Linked DNA regions of Homo sapiens: region 1 is linked to region 2. The links come from fine-mapping of genetic effects on gene expression. A gene starts in region 2. The other region holds a variant in brackets. All regions are shown on one strand. Distances are between the middles of the regions.

Region 1 (12,909 bases), 130 kb after region 2:
CAGGATCTTCTTTTCTGTGGCTGAATAGTCTTGTATTGTGTATGTATGTGTGTGTGTGCATGTGTGGTTGAATACTAGTCTAGTGTGTGTGTGTGGCTGAGTAGTATTCTTGTGTGTGTGTGTGTCTGAATAGTATTCTAGTGTATGTATGTATGTGTTGCTGAATAGTATTCGTGTGTGTCTGTGTGTGTGTGTGTCTCTGAATAGTATTCGTGTGTGTGTGGCTGAATAGTGTTTGTGTGTGTGTGTGTGTGTGTGTGTCACATTTTCTATATCCATCCACCCATCCATGGACTCTTAGGTTGATTTCATATCTTGGCTATCGTGAATAATGCTGCAATAAATGTGAAAGTGCAGGTCTCTTTGACATGTTGATTTCATTTCCTTTGGATATATACCCACTAGTGGGATTGCTGTATCATATGGTAGTCCCATTTTTAATTTTTCTGAGGAACTGCCATATTATTTTACATAATGACTGTATTCTTAAAAAATGCTTAAAAAGTGGATATTAAGTGTTCTTGCCACAAAAATGATAAATATTTGAGGTAATTTATATATATGAGGTAATACGCGTTTGTTAATTAGCAAGATTTAACCATTCCACAATAAGTAAAAAATTGTATATGTCAGTTTAAAATTTTTAATTTGCAAAAAAATAGTTTATCAGTTCCTTGAGTTTTATTTCTTTCTATGCAAGTAACAAAGTTTAATACTTCTTAGTAAAAATAAAATAATATAAATTATAAATGTTTTTTAAATGAACTAGTCTGTGTGTGTGTGCATGTGTGTGTGTGTGTGTATTCATATAAGTCCCCTCACAGATGTCTAAAATGACAGTCACTGAATTTTGCTAAAAGATATATGAAGTTGGTCAGATTTGGAAATTATTATTTTGCCCTCAACTCCACACTTCTCTGTATTGCTTGTTTATAACCTTCTTTTATAATATTTCTCATTTGTAAAATCATTTTTATAAAATGATAGGATCATAATTTTGTAAAAGAAAGAGAAAAAACATTAATAGGTAAGAAAAGAAGAAATTAAATTGTCAGAAATATAAAATGCTGTCAATAAATAAATTAATATAATAATCTAAAAATATTCACCATATTTAGTAATAAGGAGGTCATGATGACATGAGAAAAGTTCCTATGGAAGGGAGGGTGCAAGAACTAACCTGAAATGGACAGAGGAATACAATCCTGTGTCACTTAACAATGGGAATACATACTGAAGAAATGTGTCCTTAGGTAATTTTGGTTTTGTGCAAACATCATAGAGTGTACGTGCACAAACCTAAATGATACAGCTTACTACACACCTAGGCTACATGGTATATAGCATATTGCTCCTAGGCTACAAACCTATATGTTACTATACTCAATACTATGGGAAATTATAACACAATGGTATTTTTATCTAAACTTAGAAAAGACACAGTGAAAATACAGTTTAAAAAATTAAAAGATGATACGCCTGTATAGGGAAACTAACATGAATGAAGTTTGCAGAACTGGAAGTTTCTCTGGATGTGTCAGTGAGTAAGTGGTGAGTGAATCAAGGCCTAGGACATCATATTACTATAGAATTTATAAGCACTATACCTTTATGATATACTACATTTATTTTTAAAACAAAGTAATTACACTATGCCATTATGACGGCTACCATGTCACTAGATGATAGGAATTTTTCAGCTCCATTATAATCTTATGAGACCACTGTCACTTATGTTTTCTGTCACTGGCTGAAATGTCATTATACAGCACATGACTGTAAATGGAAGATGAGGAACAGAGGTAGTGGTGGAGAGTGTGTTAAACTTTTCACATGTTACACCTTAAGATGTTAAGTTACACCATATGATCTTAAAGTAATTCATTATCTTAAACTTTTAATTTTCTGAGTAAAAAAAGATACCTGCATTTTTGAACATTTACTTTTAATAGTGCTACATTAAATACTATTTCAACCTATTCATCCACTGTATTCAATATGTAGTAGAGTTACAATTCTCTTTCAGGAGTCTGTAATTTCCTAGGCATTGTATTATGCATATTTACAGTAGCACTTGTATCCCTAAGGCAATTATATCATAAACTAATCTTTGTAGTTTTCTCACTGTTTGCTAAAGGCTATTTCTAATCCTTATCTTCATATTTGGCTATAGTTTTGCCCTTATTTGTCAATCTAGTAACTCTAAGAAAGATTATTAGAGGTTCAATTGTCATGACATTCTGTTAGTACATATAGCATAGTAAGTAAAATATTTTACTTATTTGTGTCTAGAAGCCTCAAATATTTGTCTAATAATCAGTCCTGGAATATAGCATAATACATATTAAGCTTATTGATCTATAGCAGTCTTCTGTTATAGTAAGCCCTTTTTGAAAATTAAAAGAAATATTTTTTTCTATCTTTTCACATCTACATTCATGAATTCTAAAATATTTTACCCAAGGACTATGAAATTATATTTAGCAGAGTCATTGTTGATCCAAGCATTTGTGTCTCTACACTGAAGAAACTAGGATAATGTTTAGAAAAGTTTTACATTAATTTCACACATTTCACAGATTTGCAGGCAAATTAGGAGGTATTATAACATATTAAGTCTTACAAAATTTATCTTATTTTCTGTAACTCTAATTTTTTACACTTTTTTCTGCCATTTTTAATTTGAATTTTCTGATTTTCTATAAAAGATAAAATCAACACTTCATTCAAGCAATTATCATGTTTTACTGAGCATTGGGAAAAAATTATATTTTTAAAATATTTGAAGAGTAATGATATGGTTTGGCTTTGTGTCCCCACTCAGATCTCATCTCAAATTGTAATCCCCCAATTCAGATCCTGCTCCTGCTTTGTATGAGCTGCAAACCAGGAGCCACTGACTTCACCTCTCGGAGGCTCCAGTTACTCATCTGTAAAGCAGAAGCAGCAGCATCTACCTCACAGGGTTGTTAAGGGGATCACCACTTGACACCAAAGGTGAAAACATGGTCTGTGAGTGGCAAAGCCATTTTACAGTCAGCCAGTTCTGCATTACTGTGATGGGAACACCAGCCCTTCACAAACTGCACTTTCTGCTCAGCATCTAAATAGAAAGTCACCCTGTGAACCTACGTGCTGTCTCCTCTCTCCCCTCATAGTCCCAGCAGAGCTTCCAGGAGGGGGGTCATTGAATCTGGCTGTCTGTATTTCCTCCTCTCCCACTCACCTGGGACTCTCCTCTGGTTAGGGGCACTGATGGCCCCCACATTGCTGCTGTCTTTATCATCCTTGACTTTGGCTGTATTAGACCAGCTGGCCATGCCCTATGGCCTGAAACTTACCCTCCTCTGCTCCTTCCAGGTGACATGCTCCTGGTGTCCTCCACTGCTCAGGCCACCCTTTTGCAGCCTCCTTTCTAGGCCCCTCCCTTGTCTCTCTTCTGATGCTCCACACTCATGGCTGGGTTCCACGAGGGAGCCCAGGCCATTTCCACTGCTCTATCCCCTCTCCTAAGCACCAGAACTTGCAATCAGCCTGTTCCCACCTAGAGACCCCCACTTAGATGTCATCCCCAAGCTCAGCTGTCCATAGCTGGCCGCTCCTCTTATCTGGCCAGTCGTGTCACTTCTCCTGTGTAAGCAGCCCATGAATCTCATCAGTGATCTGGTGTGAGCTTTGATCACCTACCAAGACCAGTCCCTGATCCTGCTTTTCTCCCTCCATCTCTTGCTTTCTATGTATCTGAGTCTCAGATGGTGGCTACATAATCTCTCACCTGGAAGTTGCCACCTGCTCTTAGCAACCAAGCTAGGCTTTCTAAAATACAAGTCACTGCTCTGCCTAAAACTCATCTGGGTTTCCAGTGACCCTCAAGATAAAGTCCAATGTCTTTCCCTTGTGTTCAAAGCACACCCACTTTGGCCCCTGCCTGTGCCTCTAAGCTTCTCCTTTCCCAGCCTCCTCACCCCTCACACTATCCTTTACTGCTGCCAGACCAGGGCTTTTCCTGATCTTATGCCATTACTTGGCCTGTGGCTTTCCTCTCAGACCTCACCACCACTGTGACTGTGTATTGATGCGGGTGTAGGTTAGCTCCACAGGGCAGGGGAATCCCAGTGCTCAGCATGGGGCCTGGCACATAGCAGATACTTAATAAATGACAATGGTGGTTTTACAACCAATCCCCCAGAAATATAGAAGATTCTCAGAGGCTATTAGGAACATTTCTATGCACACAAACTAGAAAATCTAGAGGAAATGAATAAATTCCTAGAAACACACAACCTCTCAGGATGTGTAAGGAAGAAACTGATACCCTGAACAGACCCATATTGATTTCTGAAGTTGATTCAGTAATAACAAAACCTACCAACCAAAAAAGCCCTGAACCACATAATTTCACATCCAGACTCTACCGGATGTGCAAAGAAGAGCTGTTACCAATTCTACTGAAACTATTAAAAATAATCAAGGAGGTGGGACTCCTCCCTAACTTAATCTATGAAGCCAGCACCACTCTGATACCAAAATCTGGCAAAGACACAACTAAAAATACAAGCCAATATCCCTGATGAACGTAGATGCAAAAACCCTCAACAAAATACTTGCAAACCAAATGCAGCTGCAAATCAAAAGGTTAATTCACCACAATCAAGTAGGCTTTATTCCTGGGATACAGGACTGTTCCAACATATGCAAATTAATAATTGTGATTCACCACATAAATAGAATTTTTAAAAAGCCATCCGATCATCTCAATAGATGCAGTAAAAGCTTTTTAAATATAAAATCTAGCATCTCTTCATGATAAAAATCCTCAACAAACTAGGCATTGAAGGAACATACCTCAAAAGAATAAAAGCCATCTATGACAATCCCACAGCCAACATCATGCTGAATAGGCAAAAGGTGGAAGCATTTTTCTTAAGAACAGAAAGAAGAAAAGTATTCCCACTCTTATGACTCCCAGTCAACATAGTACTGAAAGTCCTAGCCAGAGCAATTCGGACAAGAGAAATAAATAAAATGCATCTAAATATGAAAAGAAAAAGTCAGATTATCTCTCTTCACTGATGATATAATTCTATACCTAGAAAACCCTAAAGACTCCTCCAAAAGGCTCCTAGAACTGATAAATAACTTCACTAAAGTTTTAGGATTTGAAATCAGTGTACAAAAATCAGTAACATTTTCATACACCAATAATATTCAAGCTGAGACTCAAATAAAGAATGCAATCCCATTTACAGTAGCCACAAAAAGAAAAAAAGAATATACTTTGGAATACATTTAACCAAGGAGGAAAACAATCTCTACAAGGAGAACTACAAAACACTGCTGAAAGAAATCGGAGATGATACAAACAAATGGAAAAATACCCCATGCTCATGGATTGAAAGAATCAATACTGTTAAAATGGCTATACTGCCCAAAACAATCTACAGATTCAACACTGTTCCTGCCAAACTACCAACATCATTTTTCACAAAACTAAAAAAAAAATGCATCCCAAAGTTCTCATGGAACCAAAAAAGAACCTAAAAAGCCAAAGCAATTCTATACAAGAAAAACAAAGCCAGAGACATCACACTACCCAACTTCAAGCTACAATACATTACAGTAACCAAAATACCATGGTACTAATACAAAAACAGACACATAGACTAATAGAACAGAATAAAGAATCCAGCAATAAAGCCACACACCTACAGCCATCTGATTGAAACAAAGTTGACAAAAATAAGCAAGGGGGAAAAGCTCCCTATTCAATAAACGATGCTGGGATAGCTAGATAGCCACATACAGAAGAATAAAACTGGACTCCTACTTTTCACCATATACAAAAATTAATTGAATATGGATTAAAGACCTCGAACTATAGAAATCCTAGAACAAAACCTAGGAAAAACCATTGTAGACATCAGCCTTGGCAAAGAGTTTATGACTAAGTCCCTAAAAGCAATGGCAACAAAAACAAAATTGATAAGTGGGACCTGATTAAACTAAAGAGCTCCTGCACAGCAAAAGAAACTTCAACAGAGTAAACAGACAAACTTCAGAATGGGAGAATATATTGCAAACTATGTGTATTAGTCAGGGCTCTCTAGAGGGATGGAACTAATGGAATATATATATATATGTGTATATATATATATATATATATATATATATGTAAAGGGGAGTTTATTAAGTATTAATTCACATGATCACAAGTTCCCACAATAGGGCATCTGCAGGCTGAGGAGGAAGGAGAGCCAGTCCGAGTTGCAGAACTGAAGAACTTGGAGTCCAATGTTCAAGAGCAGCAAGCATCCAGCACAGGAGAAAGATGTAAGCTGGGAGGCTAGGCCAGTTTCTCTTTTCATATTTTTCTGCCTGCTTATGTTCTACCATGCTGGCAGCTAACTAGAATTGTGCCCACCCAGATTAAGGGTGGGTCTGCCTTTGACTCAAA[C/T]GTTAATCTCATTTGGCAACACCCTCACAGACACGCCCACGATCAATACTTTGTATCCTTCAATCCAATCAAGTTGACACTCAGTTTTAACAATCAAAAGTCCATTCTTGTCAACTTGAACCCATACACATTTTCTGAGATCATACGTAATTTTCAAATAAAGACAATAATAAGGTCATAATTATGCCTAACATAATACAACTGTCCTATGTACAACTGGAAATGCACCAATCCCCAACCTAGTAACTATTACATAAATTTAACAATACTTGAATTGCAGTCAATAAATCTTATGTCATATTATAAAGGAAAAAGGAAATAAAGTGAAGATATGTTCTTACTACAAATGTATACATGCACAAACACGTTTTTAACAAAAGAAGGAGGGAATACTTATGACAATTACAGTCCTCATTTCTGCAGCTGGTCACATGGTCATAGTTGGTATTGATGACTATCTTCTTCTACTACCCATTCTGTATTCCCTTTGCCTTCAGCAAGCACCTCAGCAGCTCATGGTTTTTTTTCCAAGTGGAGTGACCAAAACCTTCATTCCTGTAGGGTCTGGGTCATTTGTAGTCCTGCCTGGATTGGGCTGTTGTAGTTTCCCATTGACCTTAATCACAGGGCATGGTAATACTAAGAGATGCCCTAATGGATCTCCTGTACTCCATGAATACTCTTTCTTACCTCCATTATGGAGTAGTAGACTGATTTCATCTTGATAGTCTGGGTCAGTCACCCCAGCCAACACTGTAACTCCCTTCTTAGCCTGTTGACTTAAAGCTAGGAGGAACCCAAAGTGTCCAGGTGGCAATCTTAACTTCCAGTTTAATGGAATAATTGTTGTGATTCCTGGTAGCAGCGTTCCTCCCTCTGGAACTAAGACCTCTAGGCCAGCAGAATGTAATGTCATGGGAACAAAAAGCAAAAATTTTGCTAGTGGATCACTAGAGGTGATGGTGAGTGGTGCCACTTCCACTTCCATCCCTTGATTCCTAGACCAGTGAATCCTGGCTATAGGAGAAACAATATCATATATTGGATGTTGATCCAGAGCATACACAACCTTCTAGAGAACTTTGCCCCAGCCCTGCAAAGTATTGTCACCTAGTTGGAATTGTAATTGTGACTTCAAAGGCCATTCCACCATTCTACCAATCCAGCTGCTTTATGATGATGGGGAACATGGAAAGACCAGTGAATTCCATGAGCATGAGCCCACTGCCTCACTACTTTAGCTGTAAAGTGAGTGCCTTGGTCAGAGGCAACACTGTGTGGAATACCATGATGGTGGATAAGGCATTCCATGAGCCCACAGATGGTAGTCTTGGCAGAAGCATTGTGTGCAGGATAGGCAAACCCATATCCAGAGTAAGCGTCTATTCAGGCGAGGACAAACCTCTGCCCTTTCAATGATGGAAGGTTTTGGCCTCCCTCTCCCTGTGCAAACTGGTAAAAGGCCTTGGGATTTTTGAGCTATCCTTACCCGCCTCCCTACTTGTTTGATTTTGATACATGTTTTCTAATAACCTGGTTTTTCTCTTTTCACCTTCAGGCCAGCAAACTCCACACAGTCATGCAACCAGAGCCTCAGACAATGGCCCCTTCTGCTGAGGACCCTTAAATAAGCTTCTGAGGGAGACTGCCGTTTTCCCAAAACAGCGCCCCCTGTCAGCAGGAAGCAGTTAAGATCAGTCTTCGTCCTTATCCTTATCCTTATTCTAATGGCAGTTAGATGTACTTCTTCAGAGTGGCAGAATTAGGTAGCCAAGTAAGAAGCGCCCCCTGGCAGAACCTCTGACCAGCTTGCCCACTGGGAGGAGTGCGCACTGGGGTGGAACGTTGGAAAGTTCACACCATTTGCATGGGGGAGGAGCCTGGCCTCTCCTGATGTGGGGCGGTAACCTGGGATTCAATCTGTGAGGTGGGAAGCCAGCTAGCGAGACTCTCACTTCGCCGAGTGTCTCTGTTTCCCTTTTTTCCTTTTCACCCAATAAATTCCATTTTTCTCACCCTTCAAATTGTCTGCGGGGCTAATCTTTGATGGTCAAGTGACAAGAACCTGGCTTTTAGCTGAACTAAGGAGAAAGTCCTACAACAAACATTAGGATAGTGCTGAGGGGAAATGTGGGGTTGGAGCCCCCACACAGTCCCCACCAGGGCACTATCTAGTGAAGCTGTGGCAATGGGGCCACTGCCTCAATAGCTAAGAATGGTAGAGCCATCAGTAGCTCGCACCCTGAGCCTGGAAAAGCCGCAGTCACTCAAAGCCAACATGTGAGACCAGCCACAGGGGCTGACCTGTGAAAAGTCACAGAGGCAGAGCTGCCCAAGGCCTTGTGAGCCCACCCTTTGTACCAGTGTGCCCTGGATGCAGAACATGGAGTTAACAAGATTATTTTGGACATTAAGTTTGAATGTTTGCCCTGCTGTGTTTCAGACTTGCATGGAGCCTGTTGCACCTTCCTTTTGGCCAATTTCTCCCTTTTGGAATGGGAATGTTGACCCAATGATACTATTATACAATGATACTATTGTATTTTGGAAGTAAATAACTTGTTTTTGATCTGACAGGCTCATAGGTGGAAGGAACTTACCCTGAGTCTCAAGTGAGGCTTTAGACTTTTGAGTTAATGCTGAAATGATTAAGACTTTGGGGGACTATTGCAAAGGGATGATGCATATTGCAATGTGAGGAGGACATAAGATTTGGGGGGCCAGAGGTTAAATGATATAGTTTGGATGTTTGTCCCCTCCAAATCTCATGCTGAAATATAATCCCCAATGTTGGAGGTGGGGCCTGGTGGGAGGTGTTTGGATCATGGGGGTGGATTCTCATGAATGTTTTGATGCCATCCTCACAATAATCAGTGAGTTCTCCCTCTATGAGTTCACACCAGATCTGGTTATTTAAAAGAGCCTGGAACTTCCTCTTCACTCTCTTGCTTCCTCTCCCACCATGTGATACACAGCATCCCCCTTCGCCTTCTGCCATGATTGTAAGCTTCCTGAGGCCCTTACCAGAAGCAGATGCTGGTGCCACACTTTCTGTACAACCTGCTGAGCTATGAGCCAAAATAAACCCCTTTTCTTTATAAATTCCTGAGACTCAGATATTCCTTTGTAGCAACGCAAAGAGACTAACACAATATATAAATAAATGTATATTTGCATACATCTAAAACAATGCTTGAAATTATGTGGAGTTTCCATATTACTAACATCATATGGATTAGACTTGAAGATAAAAACCTGGATCATTGTTCTACACTAAATGTTACAAGCTAAGTTGAGCAATTACTAAACTGCCTCATCTATAAAACTAATGACCTCTCTTGGCTAGTGTATGAGTTCCTAGTGCAGTAACTCAAAACCCCTCTAGGTATTTTAAACAGATTTAACAATGGGAATTAGGTGCTTAAAAAATCTTTAGAAAAACAAGCAGGCTTTGATTCTAAGCTTCCAAGAATGACCCCCGCAGAATATTACAGATATGACATACCTGTAGAGCTGCTAATTCTGACACAGGTGAACAATTAGGAAGCTGTTCATGAAAAATTGAATTTTATAATGCATCACCGTAAGTTGTGATAAAACAGGAAACCACCACTGCTCCAATAGCAAGTGTCTCTTGACAACCATACAGCCATTGTGTGGGCATTCTAATACTACCGCAGGAAAACTCACGTCAATAACTCTGCTTGCCAGCAGAAAATGATCAAATTAAAAAGCAGTAGGAAAATGGCTTCTATCTTCCTTCTATCTCCCAAATCAGATTTCAGTGCATTTAATCATGAAACCCCATTTGCATCAAAAACACCTTTTAAAAATATGCGTTATAGCTTTCCAGCCCCTACAGTACAGGAAGCCACAATAAGAGCTCATGAGAATAGATGCTGATTTATCAGTTGACATTGCAAAGACATTTGGCTTAGTTGCTGCTGAGTCCACACATCAGTCACTTTTTAAGAAAATCTGAGGAGTTAAGTGGGACCTTGAAGTATCTTAAGAATAGTAAACACAGCTTAGCAGCCTGCTCAGGGAGAAACATCGGAAACCAACACATTTGGGAGGTCAGTAGTGGTGACAAGTACAAATATAATTTGTACTTTGTGTCTGCCAAATATAATTATGCCTGACTCTACCTAACCTCCAATGGCACATAATTGTAGCTATAATTTTAAGAAATCTCCAACGTCATGTTATACAAGTATATTTTTATTGTTATTCTTATTGATGATAGCATTATGCAAAATAGTATTTTAATTCTGTGATTCTCTATCTTGCTTTCACTCTTTCTTTGAACTCCATCTTCCCTGATTTTTCTCCTCCTCCCTTCTTGCTTAGTTCTAATGCTTATTAAAATATTTACTTCAGTGTGAGTGTTATGTAGAAGACCATCTGTGAACGCTAGTGCCAGGGGCATAATACAAAAGTAATTTGGGGAGAAATAATATGAAGACCCTAAGAATACTAGCCTTGTGATTTCCTTCTCAGAGAGCATGAATCACTCATCTGCCTTTGCTCCTGATGCAATTCAATAAGCCAGAGTTTGTTATTGAATGTGTTCCACTAAACTTATAGAACACATTTGTTGAATAAGTGGTGACAGTTGGTGCTTCCTCCCATCAGCTATTTTGCCATATAATGAGCAAAGCTTTCCATATTGTGTGGCTTTCTATAAACATTAAATTTTCTTCTGTTTGTATACATTGAGCCTGTGTGTAGATGACCGTATTTCCCTACTGACTCTGTGTTGTTTTGGAAGATGTTGCATTCCAAATGCATTGACTCTTCAAAACAGGAAGTCTTATTTTTGAAAGTGTAGCATTTTCTTCATAAATTAATACAATTTGGGGTCACCATTACAGTTTACTTTTGGGAGCTGTGAAGTAGCTATGACGGAATTTTTTTTCAATATCGAACTATGAACTTTATTTTAAATTTTCTGAAGATTAAATGGAGTGGTTTTGAAAGTAGAATTGTACTGATTTTTTCCTTGTATCTATTTCTTCCATTGCACTGGAGTTGAATTAGTTTATAAGCAATAACATAATGTAAAATTCATCCAGTGTTTCAGAATCCTACTTTTACAGAGTCTAAAGCCATAGTTGTTTGATTGGGGAAGGGAAGTAGCACTATTTGATTCTGCCAAGCCGTAATTACACCAGTATTCCAAGTTCTTGACATCCATATTTTTAAAAACAATAGCTTTATTGAGATGTAATTCACATACCATACAATTTACCCACTTAAATTAAATAATTTTGTGACTTTTAGTATACCCACAGTTGTGCAACCATCATCACTATTTAATTTTGGAGCAATTTCATTATCCTAAAAGCAAACTCCATACCCATTAACAGTCACTTCCACTATCTTTCTCCCCAACTCCTGGAAACCACTAATCTACTTTCAGTCTGTATAGATTTGCCTATTCTGAACATTTCATGTAAATATAATTATATAATAAGTGAACTTTTGTGTCTGTCTTCTTTCATTTAGCAGAATGTTCACAAAGTTCATCCAGTTGTAGCATGTATTAGTAGTTTATTCTTTTTATTGCTGAATAATATTCCTTTACATAGATATACCATATTTTGTCTAGCCATTTATCATTTGGGTTGTTTCCATTTTTTAGCCATTATAAATAACACCACCATAAACATTCGTGTGAGTCAAAGAGGATGGTAGAGGGATTTTGTTGTTATTATCAAGAGTCATCTTTTGTGCCCAAATGAAGTATTATTATTATTTTTTGTTTCCTACTCACTCCTTACCTGTAATCTTTCTTTCCTCCCTTCCTTTTTAAGTTTCTACCTTCTCTTCCTTCACTAAATATTTTTGAGCCTCTACTCAGTTCCCAGAACTATGCTAGAGACTAAAGATACAGAGGTGGACAAGGCACAGATCCAATCCCTGCTCTTATGAAGTTTTCATTCTAGTAAGTGTTAAACTAAATAAATATACATTTCCCATATGGTAGGCGCTATGGGAATATATTTAGGAGTATTTGGAGGCTCCATGGAAGCATAGATGGGGATGGCATAACCCAGAGAATAATGTTGGAAAATGCATTCTGGGAAAAGTAGCCTCAAAGGTAAGGTTTTAACAATAAGTAGTAATTAATCAAGCTAAGAAAGGGAAAGGATGTCAAGGCAGAGTGAACAGCATTCAAAGAGGCCCAGCTGGTAAGAGAGCCAGATGCATTTAAAGGACTGGAAGACAGCCATGTGACTGGCTCGTACAATTTGAGGGAAGCAGAAGAGGGAGGAGAGGTAAGTAGGGTCCCTTTTATGTAGGATTGATGCCTTGTCTTTATTCCAAGTGCAATAAGGAGCCATTGAAGGGCTTCCCTAGCTTCGCCATGTTAGTAATCATGGAGATGTCTACTTCTATCATCTAATACAGCTACTCCAGTTCCCTTCGTGTTTCACCAATTATTTTTCACA
Region 2 (12,909 bases):
TCATATAAAGTCATGCAAAATTCTAATTCTTAAAAAGAGAGACAGGAGCTGTTATAATGAAGCTTGGAGCTTCGCCTACTACCATTCTGTTACCCGCCCACATCCGCTGTGGCCCTGGGCAAAATAGACTGAAAAACCTTTGTGGTGAGGTGTGCTAATTTATAACTAAAGTTCTATTCTCCAGGCAAGAGAATAATTCTTCTTATATTTCTTTGTATGTCTTATATTCCAATCTTTTCACCATTTTTGAATCCTTTCCAAATTCATCTTGAAAGACTCTAAAAACGTTAAGGGCTTTAGTAAAGACGCAATAGGCTGCAGAAAACGGAAGAATTGCCTCTGAGCTCCTTGTTGGACTCCAGTTAATATAATCTACTTTTGCATTTTCTAAGCATTCTGACTGCCATTGCTATTTTTTAAATATATAATAGCTATATTGAGCTGGTACATGGGGTAGGCACTATACTTTTTTAAAAAGTGTTTACATCTATTATTTCTTTTAATCTTCATATCAGCCTGAGTCCTGGAGCTGTCAGCATTTACACTACATCAATGATTTTAAATCTTGGCTGCAAATTATAACTTTTCTAACTTGGGGAACTCCTGGTGCTGTCAGCATTTACACTACATCAGTGGCTTTCAACTTTGGCTGCAAATTATAACTTTTCTAACTTTGGGAACTTTTGAAAACTCCATACCAATTATAATCAGACCAATTAAATCAGAATCTCCAGGGGTAGGAACCAGGCATCTGTGTTTTAAAAAACTCCCAGATGATTTACTACATGTTGCCAAGATTGAGCATTACCACTCTAAGAGGAATTCTCATATCAGCTGCTGAGAAAATTAATTTTCTGTGTTTTCTTACCCTAATACTCTTCAAAGATAGTAAAAGTGCATGAATGTGTACTTCCCCCAACGATGCTGCCATTACTTAGAATATATTTCAAACTCCTTTTTTTTGGAATTGCTTTTAGTCAATTTGCCAGCCACTGCTAGAAAATTCTTTTCACTGCCCACGGCAGGATTTGGGGGAGTGCTGCAGAGCTGTGTGTGCACCTGAGGAGACCATCCTCCCTCTGGCTGTGCCGGAATCCACAGCAGGATGAAAGTGGATACAGAACCCAGCAGGATCCTAGCAAGGCCACTACTCCAGGCACACCCCAAACACTCCCCATTTCATCTTCTTAATGCTTAGAGTCATAAAGCAGGCTAGCATTAGAACTGATTTTCTGTCTCCTCCTGGGAAGTGTTCAGAATTAACATTCCTATGCCTTAAGTTTTCATTTACCTCAGCTACCACGAGTCCCATTCTCTCCCAGCCTATCCCTCAACTTTGGACTCAAACCCATCAGACTGTGAACATCCCCTAATCTGATTCAAGCTCCCTACTCCTCAATACTTGCACTGTGTGCTCTGGAACCCTGACATCTACAAAATGCCCTGCATTCTCCATTACTTCTTTGAATGCTTCCTCCCCCTTCTTAGTCTAATGGAAACTTGGCTTTTCCACAGAAACACAGCTTTCTCAATACCTGCAATATCCCAGTGCACACAGGAAATACCCAAGAAATGCTGAATACAGGAATGACTCATAGTGCCATTAATAATACTTTAGACTTTGGGCAGAGGAACAAGATACCATGAGAGAATGAGAGATGCTGGTAATATATTCATGTGTAAGTGCCAAGTCTTCAGATCAGGTGAAAGACCATGGCTTATGATATTGATTAGATACTATTTCAGAACCATCAGCAAAGAAGTGAGAGTCATGACTATAGCCTCTATGCAGAAATTGATGATGAAAGAAAAGAGGTTGCATGCTAAGCTTCAGTGGACACTTACTCGCAAAATAAGAGAAAGATTGAGAACTCTCAAAAGGCAGAAAATACAGAGATAGGGACATAAAGGAAACAAAGAGGCAAAAAAAGACTAGTTCATGGAAACTTAGAGAAGAGAGTGGTGTTCTGCAGCACTGGTCACAAGCAAAATCAGTTCTGTATTTAGCTGGAAGAAACAGAACATGTTCAGTGAGTGAATTTGGAGGAGCATTTGGACATTGTGAAGAAAAAGATAAAAAGGAGGAAAAAACAAAACAAAATGAGGAGGAACAGGCTGCAGATAAGGACAGGTAAATTTGGTGGCCCTAAGGAGGCAATGGACAAATCCACTTCTGCAGTCTAGCCCAGTAAATCAGAGAAGAGAACAGAGACAAAACTTTCCTAAAGGAAAGGGCCATGGCAGAGCAACTCCACCCTCATATGAGTAACAAAAAACTCATAAACATGTGCCATTTATAATATTTGGGTGCAGAGAATCGCCACTTCTGCTAGCTCCATGTTGGAAGGAGTCCTGGGGAGTAGAGAGTGAGTCAACTGGTAGATCAAAGGTAAGCCAATAAGGCAATGATGGTAAGGTGGATGAAAGGAATTGAATGTCAGCTTGCCTCCATGCTGGGCACACTTAGATGCTGTGGATCAGCTGTATCTCTTTCCAACTTTAGTGTAATTCATGTAAAAACATGTTTGTGGCTACACTTTGCCTCACCTATTATTCATGGTCCCAGCAGTGTACAAAAGAAAACTCAATGTCTTTGCTCAGTGGTGTGCTGGGAAAGCAACTGTTTGATTTCTGGGTTTGTTTTTTTTTTTTTTCACTTTTTTAAAAAACAGGCCTAACTAGTAAGTGCTGATTTCCATGATGTGAATACTCCCACCACAACCAGTTTTAAGATAACAACATGATGTCCCTGAAAGGGGACCTGAGTAGAGTTGTGCACACTGGGCTCTGTAAGGCAGTGTGGCTGGCTCCAAAGAGACAAGTGTAACTGGTTTGGGCTGGGGCTGGCGCAGGCCATTTTCAAAAGCCCTTCAGGAGATTCTCTGTGTAGCCAGGTCTAAGAGCCATTACTACTTCAAGTAGTACTTAACAAACTTTTTTTTTTCCTTATAAAGACCTGAGCTGACTTCTCTAGTGCTTATCAAACTTTAATGTGCACGTGAAACAATTGAGAACCTTGTTAAAAAGCAGGTTTTGACTCAATAGGTGCTGCTGGTCCCCAGCAAGAAAGAGGAATGGACTGAAAGAAGAATAAAACAGTCATTCACAGTCTTAGCATTGTCAGAAATATTTGAGAGACAGGCAATGTAGAGATGTGACAAACTGGAAGTCCATGAATTATTTCTGACCAAGCCATAGAGATGTTTTCTTTTACCTGATTGCATTTTACTTTTTGTATTTGACTTAGAAGTCAGCATCATAAAAATCTGTATTCCCAGCTTTTCAGAAGGAGAGGTGGGGAAGCAAGAACAACAACAAAAGAAGATGTGACAATCCTGGGCACCACTCCAGCATGCTGCAATCCTGCCCCCTTTAGAGGAGACAGTCTTCCTTTTGTCGCCGTTGCTTCCTGGTGATCTTCATTGCTTTGTTTGTGTTTCCTACCTCACCCCTGAAGGAATTTGAGGGGTATTCATATTTTAGGTTTTTACATAACTATATATATATATATTTTTTTTTTTTTCCTCCCCAGTTGCACTACTTTTCTGTCTCATTTCCTGCCATTCCCCACATATAACCTGTGCATTCTTGCAATGCCTTGCACGGTATTCTTGGAACACACCATCTTCTTTCTTCCCTCCAACTTGGCACTGACCCCTATTCCTAGAACACACTCCATCCTCTGCTGGAAAGAGTCTAAATTATTCTCTGAATTATTCTTCCAGACCCAGCTTGAACATCACATCCTTCAGGAAGCCTTCCTGACTCTTCTGTGCTCGTAGAGCAAAGTGGATCCTTTTTCTATCAAATCCTGTTTTTGCTCATTTTGGGGCCATCTCCTATTCTCTGAGGTCCTGAAGGGCACAGATAGACTTTACTCACTTTTGTACTCTCAAGGTAGAACACTTTTCCAGATAGGAGATCCTCAATAGCTTTGTAAAATAATAAATTATGAATTAATTTTTGGCTCTTAGATTACATTCTCTTGAACTTTGGTTAATTTATCAAGGAAATTTTGCCATGATTATCCTGTCCTATAATGCGCAAGTTAATTCTATTTTCATATTGATCTCTAGCCCCTCTGCATGCTCTCACCTCTCCCTCGCACTTCAATTTTGGTATTATTTACTCAATTTATAAGATCATTATTTATTCTATAAATCTGGTCCCAGATAAACATAGGCCACCTCCAATTAAACACCCCTTAATAGAATTAATACCTTATACTTTCATGGCATGACCAATATTTTTCAAAGCACTTTTACTAACACACTTTATTCTCACACTAACCCTATAAAATAAATGAGCAATATATTACTCTCCTTCAGTATTTAGAAGCTAAAGTGAAATGTTCTCCATGAAGTAAGAAGCAGGGAGAAAAGAAAACTTGAGAAAAACCTTGGCAGTGCCCAAATAAGCCCTGAGGATGGAAGATGCACCATATGGCCTTTCTTGGCCATGATTCCCCAACATGAACTGGAGCTAAAGATCTGGCTCACTGCACTTTTTTTTTTTTTTTTTTTTTTTGAGACGGAGTCTTGCTCTGTCACCCAGGTTGGAGTGCAGTAGCGTGATCTCGGCTCACTACAACCTCTGCCTCCCGGGGTCAAGCCAAGTCTCCTGCCTCAACCTCCTGAGCAGCTGGGACTATAGGTGCGTGCCACGATGCCCGGCTAATTTTTTGTTGTTGTTTGTATTTTTAGTAGAGACGGGGTTTCACCGTGTTAGCCAGAATGGTCTCGATCTCATGACCTCGTGATCCGCCCGCCTCGGCCTCCCAAAGTGTTGGGATTACAGGCGTGAGCCACCACGCCTGGCCAGACTCACTGCACTTTCAAACTTCTCTAATCCCTAATATTTTACTGAAAAATTGAGACCCAGACATACTAAATTAACATGTATTACAGCCAAAATAGTAATCCAGTTCTTTTGATCCCCACCATAAAATCCCACTTTGCATAATTATTTTCACCTTTACAAATGGAGCTATAATCATCCCCAGCACAAAGAAGCCTCATAAATCTGCTTTCACAAACATTTAGAAATGAAAACTCATGTGCTTTTCCCCAAAAACCAAGTTCCGTATGATGATCAAAAAATACCCCATTAATTTTATGGAGTTAGTTGCACTGAGCAACTTTAAAATGCCCAAATACAATTACTGCATCAGAGTGCATAAGAAAGTCTCTAATCCATAAATCAAGGTCTTACTTTCCACATTGTGTATTACTTTCAAGTCAATGCTCTGTACTCAATGTTTAATGCTTTTTTGAAAATATTTACATTATAGATTGATAAGAATCAAGGACTTTAACATTCTGACTGACTAACAGCAAACTCAGTTTAAGCTAATGAGAAAAAAAGCAATGCTCACGATCTCAAATTGGTAATGGTAGGATGAAACACCCTCCATGAGTTTAAGAGAATTAGTAATGGGATAGAAATAGCAGAGATTGAAGGCATAATGATCTATTTCTCTTACATTTCTAACCATTTTGATGTGGCCACAAGAATACACCCAACCGTGAAAAAGGGGAGGCCCATGGTGCACCTTAAGCACTGGTGAGAATACAACACACTACTGCTCCTGGGTTTACACCAGGGCATTCTCCAGCTGTGTTCTTGGAAAAGCTGGATCATCTCAAGAAATATATCTTTTTTTCCAACCTCCACACACTGCTCCCAACTCAGTGACTCCACCTCTCCTCTGTCATTTTTTTTCCCCCATTATACGGAAGGAGGAGAATGTTATCTCTTCTTTTATAATAGGAGGGCATCAGTTTTCTGTGTTCCTTCTTCCTGCATGACACTTAATACAGTTTTTAAAAGGACTAGTTCAATATATTTTTTCTGCACATGAATTATATTTGTTTTATGCTCATAGGTACAAGAAGCTGTCTGCAAGCAACTGGGAAGTGAGGCTGGAGGGTGGGGGAATGAGGAAATGAGATTTTTAACTTTGGTTTAATTATTTGAAATATTTTTATCTCACTTTTAGTAAGAAAACTAGGGGAGAAAAACCTGGTAATGACGGGAAAGGGAGCTGAAATAAGTGGCGAGGGGTGCGACTTCCTGCCTCACTGCTCGGGACCTTTCCGAAGCTTTTCCCCAACCTATGTCTCTAAGCCACAAGGAGGAAGCACTGGAGGGGAATCAGAGGCGGCCAAAAGAACTTATGTCCAGGTGAACACAGGTGGCGAAGTTCTAAGAAAGAGCACCGGATTCATTTGACAGAGAAGTGTAAGGAAGAGACAGACGAGAGAGAGACAGACAGACGAGAGAGGAGAGAGAGAGAGAGAGAGAGAGAGAGAGAGAGAGAGAGAGAGAGAGAGAGAGAGAGAGAGATCCCCTGAAAGGCAGAGGGTTAAGAGAGAAGGAGCGAAGGAGCGGGGCGCGACTCTTACCCCCCAGCCAGTTGTCGGAAATGTTCTGGAGCATGGTGACGGGAATGCAGAAGAAGGTGATGAGCAGGTCACTGAGCGCCAAGGAGCAGATAAAGATGTTGGTGACGGTGCGCATGGCCTTGCTGCGGGTCACCACGTAGAACACCAGAGCATTGCCAAAGAGCGCCAGGGCGAAGATGAGCACGCCGGTGAGCACGAGGGCCAGCTTGGCGCGTCCCGGCAGCTCTGGGGTGTAGACGAGCGGTCGCAGCCGGTACAGAGCGATGAACTGCTCCCGCGTCAGGTTGTGGTCCCGCAGCAGCCGAGAGAACTGCTCCGGGGTAATGTTAAGCGCCTGCATTGCTGTGCGCTCCCGGGACGCGGGGCCACCGCCCGCTACTGGCTGGCCATCCGCATCTGCGGGGCAGCGAGGGCTTCGGGGGACCAGCCGGAGGCCGCCTCCCTTCCTCTACTCTGGAGTCAGCCGCGCGGGAGGGCTCTAGGCTGCACCCCGGGAGGTTCGGGAAAGGAGAGCAGCTCAGGGATCAAACCCACGATAAAGAGGCGGGAAGCCAAAGCACTGGGAGACTCGATCTCAGTGACCAAAAAATGTTCGCGGTTCAAATAAAGTTCTTCCCTTGCTCTTCCCTAAGGCGAGGCGCCGCCACGGTCTGGGGTGCTGGAGCGCCACGCGAGGGTCCTGGCGCCTCTGGCTCCCCGCCTTCTGGCCATGCGATGCGGACGCCGGACCCGCTTGGGGAGCGGTGGAGGGTGGGGCTGAACTCGGTGACGCCTCCCTCACACCCAGCTTCAGTGGCGCCAACGCCGCTTCCCCGCACCCTCAGGGCGAGGGAAGACTTCCCTGGCTCACCAACTTGCTGCCGCCCAGCGCCTTTCTCAGGGCATGGCCCCAGTCAGGTAATGCTTGTATGTGAAACTGGGTATTGGGGGGTTCCACAGTTTCAAGTTTCTCCTCTTGCGTAATAATGGGAGCCACAACTACCCAAGGCAAATAGGGCTTATTTTAAATTATTTTCTGTATTGAAAAATAATTAAGATAGTTAAAATATAGAACTTGGGAAATGGCAAAGATAATACAGAAAGATCCTGCGTACCCACCCTTCACCCAGTTTCTTTCATTCATTACATCTTATTTAACTACGGAACAATACAAAACCAGGAATTTGACACAGGTACAGTGTTTGCATGTTTTTATCTCAAGTGTAGATTCCCGTAACCGTCAGGATACAAACTCTTCTATCACCACAAAAATCTCCCTGGTGCTTTTTATACTCACACCTAGCCCCTCCCTCCACCATCTCTAACTCCTGGCAACCACTAATATGTTCTCTCTTAACTTTTGTCAGAACATTACGTAAGGGAAATCATACAATATGCTGCCTTTTGATATTGAATTTTCTTCGCTCAGCCTAATGCCCTTTAAATCCATCCAAGTTGTTGCATGTATTAATGGCTGTTTCTTTTTATTGCTGAGGCTGTATCACCGTTTATTTAACCATCCACCTCTTGTAGAACATTTTGGTTGATTACCATTTTGAGCTATTAAAAATAAAGCTGCTATAAAGAATCATGTACAGGTTTTTGTGTGAACATAGTTTTCCTTTCTATAGGAAATGCCAAAAGTTTTGATTATTGAATCTGTAATGTGTATATTTAATTTTTAAAGAGATTGACTACTTTTCAGAGTGGCTGTACAAGTCTCCATCTCTACCATCAATGCATGAGAAGTTACGTTTCTCCACATCCTTGCCAGCATTTGGTTTTGCTGCTTTTTTTTTTTAAGCTATTCTAATAGATCTGTAGTGATATCTCTTTAGGGCCTTAATTTACATTTACCTAATGGCAAGTAATATTGAACATCTCATGTGCTTATTTGCCGTCCTTGAATCTTCTTTGGTGAAATGTCTTTCCATGTGTTTTGTCCGTTTCTAATTGCATGGTTTAGTTTATTTGCTGTTGAAAGTTCTTTTTATATTCTACATACAAGTCCTTTGTTAGTAAACGGTTTGCAAATATGTTCTTCCAGTCTGTAGCTTGTTATTTATCTTCTTAACAGGGACTTTCACAGAACAGCTTTTAGTTTTAGTGAAGTCATATTTATCAATATTTTCTTTTATAGATAGCTTTTAGTGTTCAGTCTAACTTCACCAAAGCCTATTTCTCAAAAACTTTCTCTTAGGTATTTTTCTAAAAGTGTTATAGTTTTACATTTTATGTTTTGGGCTCTCTATTCTGTTGAATTGATCTATGTGTCTATCCTCCACATTCTTGACTACTGTAGCTATATAATAAGTTTTGAAATCAGGTAGCATGATTTCTCATACTTCATTCTTATTTTTCAAAATTATTGTAACTATTCTAGGACCTGTGCCTATTCATATACATTTTACAATCAACTTGTCTATGTCTACAAAAAACCTTGCTGGGATTTTGATAGAAATTGACATATTTACTAGGTTGAGTTTTTCAATCCATGAGAAGAATGTCTTTCCATAAATTTACATCTTTGATTTATTTCAAAGGCATTTTACAGTTTTCAGCATGTAAGTCCTGTACATATTTTTAGATTTGCACCTAAGTATTTCATTTTGGGCGGACATTTGTACACGGTACTGTACTGAATTTCTAATTTTTGGTTCCATGTGTTCATTACTAGTATGCAGAAATCCAATTTATTTCGTATGTTGATCTTGATTCCTCCAATGTTGATGAATTCACTTAATTTTATTAGGAGGTTGATATGATTTGGCTCTGTGTCCCCACCCAAATCTCATCTTGTAGCTCCCATAATTCCCATGTGTTGTGGGAGGGACCAGTGGGAGATGATTGAATCATGGGGGTGGGTCTTTCCACGATGTTCTCATGATAGTGAATGGGTCTCATGAGATCTGATGGTTTTAAAAACAGCAGTTTCTCTGCACAAGTTCTCTCTTTGCCTGCTGCCATCTATGTAAGATGTGACCTATTCCTCCTTGCCTTCCACCTTGATTGTGAGGTCTTCCCAGCCATGTGGGACTGTAAATCCAGTAAACCTCTTTCTTTTGTAAATTGCCCAGTCTTGGGTATGTCTTTATCAGCAGTGTGAAAATGGACTAATACAGAGGGTTTTTTGGTAGATTTCTTGCATAGACAATCACATTATCTGAGAAGAAAGACAGTTTTATTTCTTCCTTTCTGATTTGTATGCTCTTTATTTCTGGTTTTAGCTGTTGTTTGTTTGGTTGTTGTTTTTGTTTTCTTTTGTTTTTTTTTTTTTTTATTTTTTGCCTAACTGCAATGGTTGGAGTACACAGTTTACTATGTTAAATGGCAATGGAGAATGGAGATCATCCTTGTCTTGTCCTCAATCTTATAAGGATGTATTCAGCCTTCTTTCACCATTAAGTATGATGTTAGTTGCAGATGTTCTTTATCAACTTGAGAAGGTTACTGTCTATTCTCAACTTCTTGAGAGATTCTATCAATGGTGTTAAATTTTGTTAAATGATTTTTCTGCATCAATTAATACTATCAATGTGATTTTTTTCTTCAGCCTGTTAAAATGGTGAATTGCATTGATTGACTTTTGAATATTGAATCAGCTTTGAATATTTGAAATAAACCCCATCTTAGTCGTGGTGTGTAATTCTTTATATATATTGTTAAATTCTATTAGTTAGGATTTTAAAGAATTTTATGTATATCTTCATGAGGGCTATTGGTCTGTAACTTTTTTTTCTTTTTGTATTTTTTATCCTGGTTTTGGCAGTCAGGTAATAATAGCATCATAGAATGAATTGAGAAGCATTCTCTCCTTTTCTATTTTCTGGAAAAGACTGTGTAGAAATGGTATTAATTCTTCTTTAAATGTTTGGTAGAAATGGTATTAATTCTTCTTTAAATGTTTGGTAGTATTCTCTAATGAAGCCATGTGGGCATGAAGAGTTCCTTTACAGGTGTTCCTAAATGATGGATTTAATTTTGTTAATAGTATAGTGATATTCAAATTATCTATTCCATATTGGGTGAGTTTTTTTAAGAATTGATAAATTTCTTTTGAATTTATGTGTGTAGAGTTGTTAATAGTATTCTCTTAATATCCTTTGTATGGCTGAAGAGTATCCCCTGTCTCATTCCTGATTTTATAATTTTTGCCTTCTCTCTCTCTTTTGTCAATCTAGTTAGAGGTTTGGCTATTTTATTGCTAGTTACAAAGAAACAATTCTTAGCTAACAACTTCTCTATTATTTTCTCTATTATTTTCTCTTGAATTTTATTGACATCTGCTCTTATCCTTATTATTTTCTTCCTTCTACCTGCTTTCAGTTTATTTTGCTACTCTTTTTCTAGTTTCTTGAGGTGGAAACTTTAATTATTGACTTGGAACTTTTTCTCTTTCCTAATGTAAGCATTTAGTGCCATAAATTTCCCTCTCAGCACTGGCTTAACTGTGTCCCACATGTTTTATGTGTTATATTTACATTTTCATTCAGTTCAATGTACTCTTTAATTTCCTTTTAAATGTCTTTTTTGACCCACGGATTATTTAGAAATGTCTTATTTAGTTTCCAAGTGTTTGAACATTTTTCTGCTATTTTTCTGTTTTCTAGTTTGACTCCCTTTTGGTCAAAGAGCATTCTCTGTATAATTGCATTCTTTTAAATTTGTTGAGGTTTGTTTTATTGCTAAGGATATTATATATTTTGGTATATGCTCCAAGGGCATTTGAAAAGGATGTGTTCATATTGTAACTGTTGAAGGAAACCTAAGGGAAGATGTCCAATCATAACCCATTGTAGGAGCAATGGTTCACAAATGAGTCCAATTCTCTGGACTAGGGGCTGAAAGTTTGGGTCATAGAGGATGGCTCTCGAATTACATAGGAACCACATAGATGGAAGACATGCCCTGCCTCTCCCTGGTCCACAGTGTTGGGATCAAAGAAGGTCAGCAGCATAGCTGCAGGCTGATTCCAGCCCCATGTGACCCAGAGAAGAAATCTCAGGGCTTTCTTAAGGCCAGAGCAGGTCTGGTATGACTATATTTAATTCCTTGTGCTTTATGTGGACATACATTATTGCAGACAGCAATAGTGCTCATCTTTCCCGGTTCTACTCAGCACTCTTCAAAACAAGTAAAGGAGTATAGGGGAACAGGGAAGTGTGAAAAGCAAAGATCAACTCTCATAGTGGCTCCCTAGGATATTTGAAAAGCCTATGAATCCAGATTATGAGAATTATTCTTTGAAATAATGCATGATTGAAGTTAGAGTTTGATTGGAGCTAAGTGTACAAAAAAGTGACATTAGCCTCTAAAGTTTTAAACTCTTTTGGGTCTTCCTCCCTCTATTGATATTGCACTAGTCTTCGTTTTCACGACTTCTCTACACCTCTTCAACCCTCATCTCTTCAACCTCCCAACCCACTTTATCTCAACCACTCACATCTCACTCACCCAGTTCGCTACCTGGTGAAAATACCCCTACTAAGGTAGCCCAAGGCTAATCTCACAAGACACTGCCAGTACTCCTGACCTTTCCTTCTCCCCCTAGAAACTCTTCATGACCATTTCCTGAAATACCTGCTTATTGTTTGAAAACTAGATAAGTACATGAATATTTATGCCTCTATTCAATAACGTTTTTGGATGTCTGCTGCATGCCAGGCACTGTGTTCATCATTAAGAGTAGTATGGTGAAGAAACAGACCCAGTCTTAAGGGGTAACTCCCACAAGGGCATGCAACACAGCTCAGCCTTTGGGGAGCTCATTATCAGTTCAGGGTCAACAAACTACAGCCTGGGCCAAACATGGTTCACTATCTGTTTTTGTATAGCTCATGGGCAAGGAATAGTTTTCACATTTTCAAATCATTTTTAAAAAGCATAAAGAGAATATATTTCATGGCACATAAAATTGTATGAAATTCAACTTTCAGTGCCTGTAAAAATAAAAACATTTTACTGGAACATATCATGCCCATTCATCTACATATCATCCTTGGCTGCTTTCACACTACTATGGCACAGTTGCATATTTGTGATAGAGACTGTATGGTTTTCAAAGCAGAAAATATTTACTCTGTGACCCTTTGCAGAAGCAGTTTGCCAGCCCCATCTTGTTAGAGGGGCAAGAGGGACAGAAATATTCATAGCTCAAAATAAGGTGACAAGTGCCACATCCACACACAGAAAGAACATGTTCTGGAAATTCAAGCAAAGGCAAATCCATACATGCTGTGTGGGGAATGTGGAGTGTAAATCAAGGCTAAAAGGAAGGATAAATTGAAAAAGAGAAAGGTCACAGAGTGAGTAGCCTCTCCAAAGGCACAGAAGTAGGAATGATTATGTTAGAGAGAGGGATAAAGCGAGCCAGAAAGGCAGGATTGGCTTCTGATGCTTATTGGCAATTCTCATGATTAGAAAACAACAGTGACAGAGGGTCCATTTTCCAAAATAAACAAGCTAACAGGGTGAAGAAGAATCGCCAAAGAGCTTTCTACCCTCAAAGATAGGAACATGGAAGAAA

What was found.
Region 1: its variant is fine-mapped to the expression of QRFPR in prefrontal cortex (GTEx, PIP 0.97).

The regions. Positions count from the first base shown.
Region 1 is chr4:121,506,416-121,519,324 of GRCh38, forward strand. LOC107986309 (a long non-coding RNA gene) reads left to right here. Exons shown (of 3, transcript XR_001741806.2): 3 at 8,013-9,196. Among named protein-coding and RNA genes, the nearest start is that of QRFPR, 130 kb to the left of the region's middle. The variant C/T (reference allele first, on the strand shown) is at 6,455.
Region 2 is chr4:121,373,904-121,386,812 of GRCh38, forward strand. QRFPR (pyroglutamylated RFamide peptide receptor) reads right to left here and starts at 7,115. Exons shown (of 6, transcript NM_198179.3): 1 at 6,405-7,115. The coding sequence starts at 6,744. RefSeq lists an enhancer at 6,901-7,685.